Homo sapiens: one gene and its partner. The protein of the gene in region 2 purifies or fractionates together with the protein of the main gene of each other region. This does not show direct contact. Each region holds a gene or a part of one and is shown on either strand. Other genes may lie near its edges.

Region 1 (7,024 bases), on a different chromosome or scaffold from region 2:
GCTCATAAAGTTTTGTGGATTTTGGAGCATTTGGGATTTTGGATATTCACATGTGGGATGCTCAACCTGTATGGACAATGTAAGGGCAACAATTGATAACAGTGCCTGACATTTAGTAGGCACTCATTAAACATCTGCTAAGTGAATGAATAACACAGAGTTAAAGATATGGAAAGTGGGCCGGGTGCAGTGGCTCACGCCTGTAATCCCAGCACTTTGGGAGGCCAAGGCAGGCCAATCACTTGAGGTAGGAGTTCAAGACCAGCCTGGCCAACATGGTGAAACCCTGTCTCTACTAAAAAAAATACAAAAATTAGTCAAGCGTGGTGGCGCATGCCTGTAATCCCAGCTACTTAGAAGGCTGAAGTGGGAGAATCGCTTGAACCTGGGAGGAGGAGGTTGCAGTAAGCTGAGGTTGCGCCACTGCGCTCCAGCCTGGGAGACAGAGTGAGACTCCATCTCAAAAAAAAAAAAAAAAAAAAAAAGATTTGGAAACTGGTCACTGTCAATCACTGGATATACCAATCATTTCAGGGAAATTCAGAAAATCATTAGAGCCAATAAAAATTTCAAGATAAACAGTTTTATCCATTTAACCACTGCATTTGGCGGATAAGAATGTCCATTTCAAAAAGGTTAGAGATGAATTTCAAGACATTTATACCACCAACTTTCATACAATTCAGTACTATGAGAAAGCAATTTGATACAATGGTGAAATGGTCAATAATACCTGGCTTTAATGGCAAGGATATCAATGACATATAAAATTTCATTTTCTAACCCTGTGACCAAAACAAACAAAAAAAGTCTATAGCAGATTAACACATTCACTTACTGGTTGCCATTAATCAGCCTTTTCACTAAGCAAATGACAGTTTCCACTTGTTTGTTTCTATAATAGAAAAATAAACCATGCATGCAATAACAAGGCTCCTATATATTAACAACAGCTAGTACATTCAAGCAGCTATTCATTCCTTCGCAGCATAAATATACAATTGTGAAGATTACTTACTGTTCATTTATCATTCTCTCCATTCCCTAATCCCCAACCACACTAGCAAATCAGAAAGATAACGTGCTGCCTGGACAGAACACCTTACATGTTTGTTTTTTTTGAGACAAAGTCTCACTCTGTTGCCCAGGCTGGGTGCAGTGGCACGATCTCAGCTCACTGCAACCTTTGCCTCCCAGGTTCAAGCAATTCTCCTGCCTCAGCCTCCCAAGTAGGTGGGATTACAGGTGTGTGCCACCATGCCCAGCTAATTTATGTATTTTTAGTAGACACAGGGTTTTACCATGTTGGCCAGGTTGGTCTTCAACTCCTGGCCTCAAGTGATCCGCCCGCCTTGGCCTCCCAAAGTGCTGGGATTACAGGCGTGAACCACCATGCCGGGGCGATGTTTCCTTACTTACGCCACACAGTAAAGTTTGAATACTACAGGCAAAAGCTTTCTACTATCTTACTTATAAAATGTTCATCATAAGACCTCTCATAGAGGATGTGAAAGAAAGAGAGAATAATGTAAATTGAAAACACCACAGAATTTGGAGAATTGTATTTGAATCTTGGGACTGCCATTTATTGACTATGTGATTACTCAACTTTAGAACCCTTTGGAATCTGTTATCCAGCTGGAAAATGAAGATGACAACATTTTCAAACTCTTTCCCTCCTTTTCACAGCTGTAAGTTCTTAGAGAAATAAAAGTTTGAAAGCATGCTTTAAGAAGTAAAGTACCAATATAAATGATAATTATTATTGCTCTCTGTATGAGTAGTAGTATTACAACAACTGTGAAACTATTCAGGCAAATACACCTGTAAAATTTAGTTATTCTGGGCCCCACAACTGTAATCCCAGCACTTTGAGAGGCCGAAGCAGGCAGATCACCTGAGGTGAGGAGTTCAAAAACACCCTGGCCAAGATGGTGAAACACCGTTTCTACTAAAAATACAAAAATCAGCTGGGCATGGTGGTGGGCACCTGTAATTCCAGCTGCTTGCGAGAGTGAGGCAGGAGAATCACTTCAACCTGGCAGGCGGAGGTTGCAGTGAGCTGAGATTGCGCCACTGCACTCCAGCCTGGGCGACAAAGCAAGACTATGTCTCAAAAAAAAAAGAAAGAAAAAATTTAGTTATTCTCCAAAGGGTGCAAAAATATATGTACTATCAGCACCATAAGATGGGGCAAGAAAAAAAAAAGATGTCACTAAAAACAACAACAACTAGAGAATTAGTCTATCTACGAGTAAATTTTAAAAATACGTATATTCCACACAATGAATTACTATATAGTTGTTAAACAGTTAAGATTCTTTTACTAAAAATATAGAGATTGCTAAATACTCGATTAATGAAAAAGGTTCAGAGTTGAATGGAAAAATAATCTACTTGGGGAAAAGGGGGAGGGGAAGATACAGATAAATAGAATCTAGCATATGTATACAATGTGTCTTGAAGACTACATAAGAAACCTAACATTGTGTACTTGTTGGGAGTGGGACCCATGGTCAAGGAAGAAAGTAGTAAAGCAAACTTGTTTTTCCTTTTCATTTCCTTTTATACTGTCTATATTTTTTAAATCTATTATTATATAATAGTAAGTTGTAAATTTTTTAAAAAGCAGTACAAGACTGTTCTTCTCCCTGAGCAGTACAGATTTTCCCCAATCTATAGATTCTGCCAAGATACTTTTACCTGCATTGAAGTAGGGTAGTTTGTCATTAATGTACATCAGACAGTAAGCACTAACATTTCTCAGGCCTCCATAGGAATCTCTTTCAACTTCTTCCCAGGAAGATTCAGTAACAGAGATGTCATTGTACTTGAGCCAGCTCTGTCGGGGTTGATTATAGATATAGGCCCAATAGTGTCCAGCATTTGCTTGTCCTTCATGAACAAGAACTGCATGCAAGCGATAAGGCACCTGTAAGTCAGAATGTACATTCCCCAGTCAGGTGAAGCAAAGTAATCTGATAAAGTTTAGGTTATTAAGAAATTACTGTTTATGATGTGATTAATGTGGGGTTCATATTAAAACATCTTGTTGATTCAAGATGAAGTCCACAAAAACACAGCCTTGGAATTGATCAATTATGTCTCAGTTCCAAAACCTTGAAAACCAGATCGCTGAACTACATGACCTCTCTGAAGACTCTTTCAACTCTAAACTCCTCAGATCTAAAACCAAACATAACCTAAACATATGCATCCTTCTAATTCAAAACTCTGTTTATCTAAAAATAGAATCACCTTGACCACTCATGCTGAAAATGCTTAGCATATTTGGGACCTACAAAGGTTAGCAGCTATTTTGTTCCATGCCTATTTTATTTGGCAACAAAATTTAAGTTAACATATTTAATTCAGCCACATGCTTCTTAGAGTTAAGTGACCACTTATCTATCTGGAGTGAAGACCCTTTTAATGACATACTTGTTTGTTACAACATTTGAAAAGCACATTTGTGTATTTTCAATATAGAGAAAATAGAGCAATGCTTAAATGCTAACTAAATACTAGTAAAAGAGATGAAAGTCAGTCACAGAATCAAATTAAATTTACACTTACTTTGACCTATTTTAATTACTGGTGAAGATTTTTGAATTAACACAAAAGAAAAAATGGGGAAGCCTGCGTTTTACATGGTGCATTCCTGTTAAGCAATGGGACTGTGCCTCAATGCCATTCTAGAAACAGGGCTCCCCTCCTCCAAGCCATTCTGCCCATTCCAGTCATTCATACAGAAGCCACTGAAAGTCCATGCCCCTAACCAGAATAGGTTCAGAGACACTCCTGGAGGCTCTTTACCCCTCCATTCCCAGAATTTATTCTAACAAACACTTCTGTGGATAGTTAAGAATTTCTGTCCTAACTCTCTTTTGGAATTTATTATTACAGAAATAAAGCTTGAACGCATGTTGTTAAATTAAAGATCTTGAAGAATCATGGAACTTTGGGAAAGAAAGGATAACTGTTCTCTAGTTCAGTTTTTCCCACTGCACTACTTAAAGTACCATTTTGTAAGTAATTTTTATTAGTATCTGACAGCAAACCTTTCTACAATATGAAAAAATTCCATGTGGCAGAATTCAAACAAGTATGTGTTAGGTCCTGTTTTTGGTAAAAGGTATATTGCTTTCTTTAGCCTAAAATAAAGAAACAGAACAACATCAATTTATATCTTAAGTTTATTCTTTTATCTTAGGGGGATTCCCATTGGGTTTAAAAGAAAACTATCAAATTTGATTTTTGTATCTACCATTAGCACATGCCTTGACTACTTTCCCATCAATTTTCATTCTACCTGACGAAGGAGAGGATCGCAGTACATCTGTTCAATAGTCTGAGTAGTACTTGCAATACAAGTCTTTAAATCTGTTTGGAAAAAGAAAAACAAAAGCTTCACTAAAATGATCTCATTCTATGTCACACAGGCTACTTTAACTAAGCAAAGAATATTGCTAGGGTCCTAATGATTTCAGCTTCCCTCTATGAACCACGAAGCAATATACAGTTTTAAAGCAGCTAGTACTTTAGGTTATGAAAGCTTTTAGTTCAATATAATTACATTAAGGTTTTAAAACATTATTTTTTATAATTGCCAAAATTTCTTAAAGAGTAAGCTGTTTAGGAAAAGATCTTAATGGGTCACTTGGCTGTAAAATGTATGCCTCAGACAGGATCTGAAATGAGAAAGCAGAACAAAGGGTAAGGCTAAATTTCTCTGAATAGGAATCTGGGAAGAATCTGTATTTTCCATCATCTTTTTGTTCCCTAGACAAAAGGAGACAGGAAGGGGGGTAAGGTTAGTCTGAGCAATATGGGCAATGAGGTCAAAGGGCTTTTTAAGAATACAATGCTGAATAATCCAATTTTACATTGTGCATACTGCTCAAATACCTCATTAACCTTCAGTAAAGCATGCTTCCTATAGAAAAGACTGAAGAGTAGAAGTCCAGAAAAGCTAAATGCTAAATCTGGGTCAACTTAAGCTGGAGTTCAGATAATCTACCACAGAAACAGAAATCAGTTGATGCAGAAAAATCTCAGCAAAGGTGATCATTTCCCAGAAATTTTGAGGGGGAGATCTTTCCATATCTGTATAATGGGGGTGTGTGAGCCAAGTTTACAGGGCACTAAAAGTGCAAAAGAAGTCACAATTACCATGTCAAAATTCAAAAGCATGGGCCAGACGTAGTGGCTCACACCTATAATCCCAGCACTTTGGGAGGCCAAGGCAGGCAGATCAGTTTTGGTCAGGAGTTTAAGACCAGCCTGACCAACATGGTGAAACCCCATCTCTACTAAAAAAAAAAAAAAAATCAGCCAGGTGTGGTGGTACATGCCTATAATCCCAGCTACTTGGGAGGCTGAGCCATGAAAATCGCCTGAACCCGGAAGGCGGAGGTTTCAGTGAGCTGAGATTGCACCACTGCACTCCAGCCTGGGTGATAGAGTGAGACTCCATCTCGGCGGGGGGGAAATTCTGTAGCATGTACAGTAATGTCAGGAAGTGTACCGAGGTGCTTAACCTCCAAATAGTCAAAAAACAGAAAAAGCAAAGAGTAACTGACAAATTTTAAAAGAGCCAACCTTGTATATCTTGTTCAATCTCACTCCTCCATCTCTGAAGACAGGTCTTAACAAAATTTATCTCCTCATCTGTGACTGTTCGTGGAGCTGGCTGTGAAGGCATTTCCATGGAAGACCGAGAAGATGTCAGTGGTTTAGACTTGGGTAAAGAATCTTCAGGAGAAGAAAAGGTACTTTCAACATCCTGAGAAGAGCTTTCTGTACTTGTACTGAGGAAGACAAAAATCATGCTCATATGATAATTTCCAAAAGATACCTTGGCCTAAATTATGTACTTTGGAAAGCAAGATGCTATATGAAAAAGTACAGGTATTCAGTGAGCATTAACTCTATAAAGGTACAGAGCCAACCTTTTTCTCTATCATCTCACGTACCACAACTGGCCTGTGAGGTAGATACTTTTCTATCCCTATTTTACCAACTGTGAGCCTAAGGTTTAAATAAATTAAGCAACATGCCCAAGTTCACCAAGCTGGAAGGTAATGAAAATGAATCCAAAGCCAGATCGGCCAGTCTTTAGCTCATGTTCTCTGATCACTGATTATTCCTTCCCATGAGGATGGGAAGAGAAGGAAAATGGAAAAGAGAAGACTAGGCCTGGAAGAATCAAGGAATCAACTACAGAGTTTACAAGATGAAGCCAACTAAAGTGACACTATCCTTCCTGGAACAAAATACACAGAAGGAAGAAAAAGGAAGCATCAGCTGAACATACAACTCACAGGAATACACACTAGGTGACACCTTGGAGAGTTCTGAGAGAAGGGCTTCAAGTCAAACAATCCTAGCTCTACTACTTTAGCTAAATACCCAAGGAAAAAAGTATTAATATCTCATCTACAAAATATAAATCTTAAGTTCTTTACGTCTTTTCTGTAAACTAACAGAGAATAAAGCATATCAAGTAAATGTTAATTTCTCTATTGTCAGAGTAAAACTGCAGGTCAACAAACCAGCAGGAATATAAAATAAGCTTCTAATTGTAGTTAGGTTTCTCTTTTACACCAAAGCTGAAGAATATAAACTTCCTTTACTTTGACTTAAAAAAAAACTCTCACTCCTGCCGGGTACGGTGGCTCACGCCTGTAATCCCAGCACTTTGGGAGGCTAAGGAGGGCAAATTACCAGGTCAAGAGATCGAGACCACCCTGGCCAACATGGTGAAACCCCATCTCTACTAAAAATACAAAACTCAGCTGGGCATGGTGGCACGCCTGTAGTCCCAGCTACTTGGGAGGCTGAGGCAGGAGAATCGCTTGAACCCAGAAGGCGGAGGTTGCAGTGAGCTGAGATCATGCCACTGTACTCCAGCCTGGCGACAGAGTGAGACTCCATCTCAAAAAAACAAACAAACAAACAAACAAAAAAACCTCACTCCCTCCTCCTCACTCTCTCACATGCACAAAATAATGGAGGAAATCTC
Region 2 (7,724 bases):
ACCCAGAATGCAACAGAATCTAAATGCCACATATACTCAAGTATGCAAAAAACAATAAGCACAAATATATAGTCCAACGACAATTTTTAATTATATGAGAATTAAAAAGGATGAAAGTTGGAGGCAAGGAATAGAAAAAGCACAAAAGATCAAAAGCTAATTTCAAGGAGTCCATCCTGAAGGAACCAGGAATGGTGGGTACAGATGCCTGACCTCCCTCCAAGACAATGTGCCAACAGGCCAGTGGAGAACAAGGTGGGATCTGAGAACAATGTAAATTTGGATGTTAAAAGAGAACACAAGCAAAAGCACCACGCACAGTGCCAGGCAGAGACAGGCATTCAAATATTTGCACATTGAATGAATTAATAAACAGACACTTACACAAAGAGAATCTGGGGCCGTGCTTCCAACCATACCATAAGGCACTTTAAGTCCAGGTCATCTTTCTTTGACTTAAAGCTCAGGCTAAAAATCTAACTTCATGAAAAGCTGAGTCTTCCTAATAGTTTCCACTGGCCTCTGTTCTAGCCCAGCTCTGGCAGTGAGGCCCGGTAAAGTTCCTTCCTAAAGACACTGCCTGCAAGTCTCAAATCCGGCACACGGGATCCATGGTGGAGGGATGTTAATGGGAGTGGAGGCAAACAGGCCAAGGGGTGGCAAGGAAAAAAACTATTTCTGATCCACAGAATGGCAAATAACACCATAACGAGTTCTTGAATTAGGTTTAATCCTGGACAGAACCAAATGAAAATAAAAACCTACTTGTATTTATAATTAAATAGACAGAAACAATGAAAAAGTCTCACCAACTTTAGCCACCCCTGATTGAAAGGAGTTTTAACAATTCTTTCATCCATGCTGGCATTCCAAGTTTTCCATTATATCTCAGCCTCTCATTGTTCCAGCACTATTGATGGAATCTCAATGCCAAAAATGGCGCTGGTCATCAAAATTATGATTAGCTGATCTACCCTAGAGTCAGTTTATCAATGTTTCAATGCATACATCAATTCTATTTTTTATTATTTCAATTTAAATCATCTGTGTCTCTATTCCCTCCCTCCCTCCAGAGGCTGCTTTCCCACACCCTTCTTTTCACCTGCATTCTAAGTATTCCCTTGTTCTTTCCTTTAGCTCCCTCTGTTCCAAAAGTAAAAACGAACTGCAGGAACTTATGTAGAAGGCAGGTTTACTACAGATAGCATACCTACATGTTACATATTATATACCATATGTTGGCTAAATACAGCTAGCATATCCTGCTTTAAGTGCTTCTGAGCCTGGGCAGACCCCCGTGTGCTCATGCTGCTGATGTGAACCATCCACCATCATATTTCCTAGGGGTTCAGGTGCCTTCCTCCAGCCTGCTGAAGAACATGACCAAATCTCAGAGCCCTCAAAGCCACAGCTATCGAGAGGTGACTAAGCCCCTGCTTCTGTCAGCCCAGGAAGGCCAATTCAAGAGTCTTATCTACCCCCTAGATTTCCACGACCTGTTCCACTCAAGCTAAAAATTCTGAAACGCACTTTTAGAAACTGTCGTTCCAGAATCCCATTAGCTCTCCTAAAAGGGCTGAACATCAAAAAATTATTCAACCCAAGCCAAGTATCCTTATTTTGGCTGGAATTCTGCCAAATAACCACAAGAGACTGGTGCGGTACAATCGGCATGGAGTGAAGCTTGCCAAATTTGACCGGAGAACGACAAGCCTCCATGAATAAGCTCTCATGAAAAGGTAAACCATTCTTCAGGATGAGGTTTGTCTGCGATTTGAAAAGTCAGATTCAAAGGACTCTTGTTCCTTCCTAAGAGAAGAGGGAACCAAAATTGAAATTTTCGAAACTCCTGGGTATTTACAGTTCACTTTTACCAAGATGTTTTTAAAACTAAAAACTAAAATTTAAAAAAAAAACCCTTGTTCTGAATAATGCAATAATGTCTTCTACATAATGTTTCAGCTATTATTTCTAGAAAGTAATTCTGTTGCCAGTGATCTTGAATGTACTTGGGTACCAAAGAAAAAAGACACCTGTGCCTGGCAGGTCGATACGCTACTAATTTGCCCGAGGTACGAACGAAACAGAAGATGCTGATTTCTGGATAAAACGTTCTGCAGTGCCAGGTAAAAGAGGTCACATGCCCTGAACGGCCGCCGCTCATTTAGAGTGATGCAAAAGCTCCTCAGATATTAATTTTGTTAGAAATTCGGGGAATCAAGCAACCTAAGATCAATTCATTTAGACAGCGGGTGACTGGTACTTTCCAGTTTCCTTTTTTCAACGGACTCAGTGCATCCTAGCCTGATCTCTTATAAAGGGGTAGGCAAACTCGGCACCAGGTGCCCATGCATTTCAGGGAGGTACACACAGGACCTGCAGGGTCACCCATGCACAGCCCCACCCCGAATCTTCTATCCGCCCGAGATGGGGAAGACCCTTCCCCAGAAATCCTGGGCAGCGTTTTAAGTCACCGCCTGGCCAGGCTGAGTTTCCGTCCGCGTCCGCTCAGGACTGCGGGCACAGCGCCTCGTCACGCCCCGCATCTCCCACCTCCCGCCGGCCCCGGCGGCTGTCCCCAGAGCTGCGCCCGCGGCCGGCGACACGCGCCGCAGCGGCGCGCTTATCCGCAGCGGCGCAGCCCGCCCGCCCGCTCACTCACGCGGGAGGCAGCGGCGGCGTCTCCATTGTGGCTCCTCTCGGGCTTCAGAACGCAGGCACCGACCAACACAGCCAGCACCATTCCAGCCGCGGACGCCGGCACTGCCCGCCCGCCGAGCCGCGTTCCATCCGCCCCGGAGGGGGCGCCGCGCTCTCCTCACCGCGCGCCACCACCTGCGGCGGCGGCCCCCGCGGCCATGGCCCGCTCGGCCGGGCGCGCTCCGTCTACTGCGCGGCTCCCGCGCTCGCCCGAGTGCGGGGCGGCGGCGACGGGACCGGCGGGCGCGCGGGCTCGGCCACTTCCGGGTTCGGCCCCGGCCGGCGCCGACGCTGTGACGGGACTGCGATGCGGCCTCCCGCGGCGGCCGAGTACCCCTCCCTCGGCGCCTCCCCTTCCTCCTGCTGCTGCTGCTGCCGCTGCCGCTGCCGCTTCTGCTTCTGGAGGCGGGCGGGCGGGCGCCAGCCGGGTGCGGGGCGGGCGTGCCCAGACGCTGGCCCGCAGGCCGGGACGCGGGCGGCGGCCGCCCACAGCGGGTCTCTGGATCGCCGGGACGGGGGCGCTGGAAAATGGGAGCGGAGGGGGTTCTCCGTGCAGAAAAAGGGCGGCCGAACGCACGGCGTAATAATGCTCGGTATCCACTTGCTGCTCTGCTTCGCGGGCGTGTACACGTTATTCTTTTCATTTGTGCCTGTACCCAGGGAGATGGGAAGGGTAGGCATAACCAACCAGTGTCCTTACAAAGGGTGGCACTGAGGCAAGAAGAAGTGATTTGCCTGTCCAGTGTCCCAGGCAGGAAGCAGGCTCTCCCTCCTCAGTATGCTAGCCATTCCTTGGACAAGTGAAGTGAGCACCTGCTAAGCAAGGTTTTAGTGCTGCGGCTGTGACAGCAAAACCAAGTCTTTCTGCTTGTGGAGCTGTCCATCTAGACGGGGTGACGGAAACAGTAAGTGATGCTTACCATGAAGAAACATAAATGAGGATGAGGAGAGGGAAAGAGATTTTAGAAAGAGTGGTCAGAGAAGGCCTCTCAAAAGGCATGAGTTAAAGAGATGGAATAACAGGGGCTTTGAGTAATGCAAAGAATGCCTAGGGCAGAGGGAAGAGCAGCGTGGAGACTGCTAAGCAAGATCCTGCCTGCCTTGTTGAGGAACGGGAAGGAGAACAGTGCAGCTGGTGGTTCTCCAAGTATGCCCGCTGGAAGCAGTAGCACCTGCGAACTTGTTAGAGATGCGAATTTTCCAGTCCCACTTTAGCCCTACTGAACCAGAAACTCTGGGGGTGGGGCCCAGCAGCGTGTGCTTTAACAAGCTTTCCAGATGATGCTTGCTGGGGCCGCGAGGGTGGGAGACCCTCTAATGAAGCAGAGTGAGGTCAGGAGGACGGCGGCAGGAATGGGTGTGGCGAGGAGTAATCACAGATCACCCAGGCCTTGCAGGCCGTGATAAAGGACTTGGCTTTTACTGAGATTAGAAGCAATTAGAAAGTGGTGAGTAGCTTGATCTGATCATTAAAAGGATGACTTTTCTGGGATTTGTTTGAAAATATCCCACAAAAAGAAGGACAGAGGTCGGGCGCCGTGGCTCACGCCTGTAATCCCAGCACTTTGGGAGGCCGAGGCGGGCCGATCACCTGAGGTCGGGAGTTCGAGATCCGCCTGACCAACATGGAGAAACCCCGTCTCTACTAAAAATACAAAAAATTAGCCGGGCATGGTGGTGCATGCCTGTAATTCCAGCTACTCGGGAGGCTGAGGCAGGAGAATCGCTTGAACTAGGGAGGCAGAGGTTGCGATGAGCCGAGATCGTGCCATTGCACTCCAGCCCGGTCAACAAGAGCGAAACAAACTCCGTCTCAAAAAAAAAAAAAAAAAGGACAGAGAAGTGAATAGATGAATATTTGCAAAATGTTAATTTTTGAGGCTAAGTGTTGGGTGCATAGGGGTGGTCATCATTTATGTGTGTTTATGTGTATGTTTTAAAAGATAATAATGGGCCGGGCGCGGTGGCTCACGCCTGTAATCCCAGCACTTTTTGGGAGGCCGAGGCGGGCGGATCATCTGAGGTCAGGAGTTCAAGACCAGCCTGTCCAACATGGCGAAATCCCGTCTCTTCTAAAAATAGCCGGGTGTGGTGGTGGGTGCCTGTAATCCCAGCTACTGAGGAGGCTGAGGCAGGAGAATCACTCGAACCCAGGAGGCGGAGGTTGCAGTGAGCCGAGATCGGGCCACTGCACTCCAGCCCAGGCAACAGAGCGAGACTCCGTCTCAAAATTCATAAATAAATAAAAGTTCATAATACAAAGTTTTTTTTAAAAAAAAAGATGACTGATTGCTGTATGGGCAACATGCATAGCGAGGCAAGAGAGCAAGCAAAGAGATTAGCCTAGCTGGGATGAAAGGTAAGGATGGCTTGGATTAGAGTCCGAGTGACTGAGAAAAGTGAACAGGTTCTGAATCTGTTTAGAAGGTAAAGTACTCAGGAACTGCTGACAGATTAGCATATAAAAGAAAGATGATCCTAAGGGTTTTGTTCTGATCTCTGGGGAGAATTGAGTTGCCCTTTACTGGGATTGGGGATATTGAGAAAGAACAAATATTGGAGGGCGGGGTGGAGATTGTATTTGTAAACTCTGATTTAGATATGGTAAGTTTGAGATGTCTGTTAAACATCCATGTGAAGATAGGTGTAGACAATTAGATATATGTATCTGGGGTAGATATAAATTTGGAAGTTGTTAGTATACAGATGGGTATTGAGATCAACTAGATTATGTAGCTAGAGAAAAGAAGTAGACCAAGAAGTAAGCCCTGGGGCACTCCAACATTAAAAAAGAAGAGGAGGAGGACTCAGCAAAGGCGATGGTAAAGGAACAACCAGGGAAGTAGAAGGAGATCCAAGGCAGGTGTCTTGGCAGCCTAGTGAAGGGTTCCAGAAAACAAACAAACAAACAAACAAAAAACCCTTAGTACACTTCAGCATGAGCTAACTTCTCTGTATGATGGTTCTGTTCAGAGCCATAATAAAACTTCCTACTTTACAAGGTTGTTTTAAGAATTAAGTGAAATAATTGATGTAAAGTATATAGCACATAAATGTATAATGGAAGCACTTAATAAATGTTAGTTGCTGCTATTATTTCTGTACACTTCTGTGGCCATCAGTTATACCTTACTCTGCTAGGAACTGGGTTAAGTCCTAGAGCCAGGAGATACTGACTTAGGTTTTACCAAACCTTTGGCCTGACTTCCTTCTGCATGCAAACTCAGTGAGTAGGGCTGACTCATCAGCCATTTCAGGAACTCTTTTGAGGCGGGGGGTGGGAGGTGGACTTTTTCTATTGCTTTTGTATCTTCCCACCCAAAATAGTGTTATGTGTACAAATAAATACTAAAAAATTACGATGTGTCCGTCTGACAGCTAGGCACATAACTTCAAACCATAGCCCCTCTCACATCCTCCTCTGGGTTAGTTTTGTCTATCATAATTCTTTGCTTAAGGGGTTCGACTCATCTAGCATGCTAAATGTCAACCCAAACCTTTCTTTTTTCACAACCACCCCCATTTGTAGGCTTCACAAGTATACTGGGAAAGAGTACATTACCCACATACAATTCAGCCTTACTTGGAGTTAAATGTCACACCAAAACTGGTCCTCAGCCAGATACAGCCTCCACCCTTAACCTGTCTCTCTGCTCACAAGAGAAAGTAAACAAAAATGCTTGACAGGCTGAGCCCAAATCCAACATTACAGTGGGGAAGAAACTTTTTAACACTTCTTCCTTTGACTCTCAGTTTCACTATCTTCTCAAGTGAAGGACACTAAGGATTAGGAGCGGCTACCTAAGACCACCAAGCTCTTCTCTTTTTCATTTCCCTTGACATAAGGTCTGACTGAACATGCAACGGTGTTGACCTCCCCTTGCGTAGGTTATTACCTCCACCCACGTTTTCATCATTCTTTAGCTGAGCCCTTCACACCCTTGGCAGAGGAATGAGATCTTACAAAAGTCCATCTGCCTCCTATGCTGTTAAGATAGAACAATTCCTTAAGCATGTTAGTAACCATAATCTAAAGCTAATGTAAGTAAATGGAATGTATCACTTGTAAAGAAAATGGAACCACTCAGATGAACAAGTCCGTGACAGTGGCTAGTGGCAAAAATCCCTTAGATTGAGCTGAAATCAGATGTTGCAATAGAACTAATGACATGACATGGCAGGCACAAACACATCTCATGGCAAGTATCCGGGAGCTAAGAATTGCTCCTATAAAGAAAAGACTTAACTTCGCTGAAGAATACAAAACCATTAGATGCTATATTTGTAATTCCTTCCAGTGCAAAGATGGCAAGTATGAAAAGATTCACTCATTCAAAATTAGGTACTAAAGAAGATAAAGGCCTTCTAAAAAGTCGCATTTTCTATCCTAAAGACTTAGTTTAAGTTGCTTTACTAATTTTAAATTAGGGATTTTGCTTTTAATATTTTGACTTAGGAGAAACTTAGCAGCATAATATATTAAGAAGCATTTCAAAATGTTCTTTTGATACTTTGCGGTTTAGCAAATGGATTTGTCAATACATTAAGATATGTATTACAAGCTTTATGGTGTCAAATGGGGTGACGTGCGTCTTGTGCTCCAGATCAATAGACAATCCTTAAGTGATGGAGTCCATTGTTTCCATGAATCCAATTTACTCTTCAAATGCTTGCCTCCTTGTTTTTGTAGTCTGTAAGATAGCAACTTTACTTCCGACACAGCATACCTCCCCATTACCCCGTATCTGAGCTTCCTGGAGAAATGAATGCAAATTGTTTGCTGCAAAATTTAATTGAAAATCTGTTGGAATTGGTACAGGAAGTATCCAAAAATAGGTTTCACACTAATGTATATCAGGTAAGCAATTTCTCTGTGTTTTAAGAAAAGGAAATTTACTTAATCTATTTTTACTTATATATAGCTTTATGGTATCTATTTATGTAGTCTGGTGATGTAATCCCTCATAGAATTATCTAGGACTGAACATCTTTCTACACAGTCAGCAGTGCTGGGGGGAAGAAAA

The links. The genes of interacting proteins can lie anywhere in the genome.
Region 1: the proteins of KLHL2 (region 2) and USP28 purify together in Homo sapiens (affinity purification with mass spectrometry; 3 studies listed by BioGRID and IntAct, with this or other methods). This does not show direct contact.

The regions. Positions count from the first base shown.
Region 1 is NC_000011.10:113,809,573-113,816,596, forward strand, and holds part of USP28 (ubiquitin carboxyl-terminal hydrolase 28), read right to left. Parts: intron 5,811-7,024; coding exon 5,602-5,810; intron 4,384-5,601; coding exon 4,313-4,383; coding exon of another isoform or gene 4,304-4,312; exon of another isoform or gene 4,183-4,303; intron 2,933-4,182; coding exon 2,704-2,932; intron 1-2,703. UniProt on the Homo sapiens protein: Deubiquitinase involved in DNA damage response checkpoint and MYC proto-oncogene stability. Involved in DNA damage induced apoptosis by specifically deubiquitinating proteins of the DNA damage pathway such as CLSPN.
Region 2 is NC_000004.12:165,202,841-165,210,564, reverse strand, and holds the start of KLHL2 (kelch-like protein 2), read right to left. Parts: upstream 3,005-7,724; 5' UTR 2,744-3,004; coding exon of another isoform or gene 2,689-2,743; coding exon 2,663-2,688; intron 547-2,662; exon of another isoform or gene 423-546; coding exon of another isoform or gene 385-422; intron 1-384. UniProt on the Homo sapiens protein: Substrate-specific adapter of a BCR (BTB-CUL3-RBX1) E3 ubiquitin ligase complex that mediates the ubiquitination of target proteins, such as NPTXR, WNK1, WNK3 and WNK4, leading most often to their proteasomal degradation.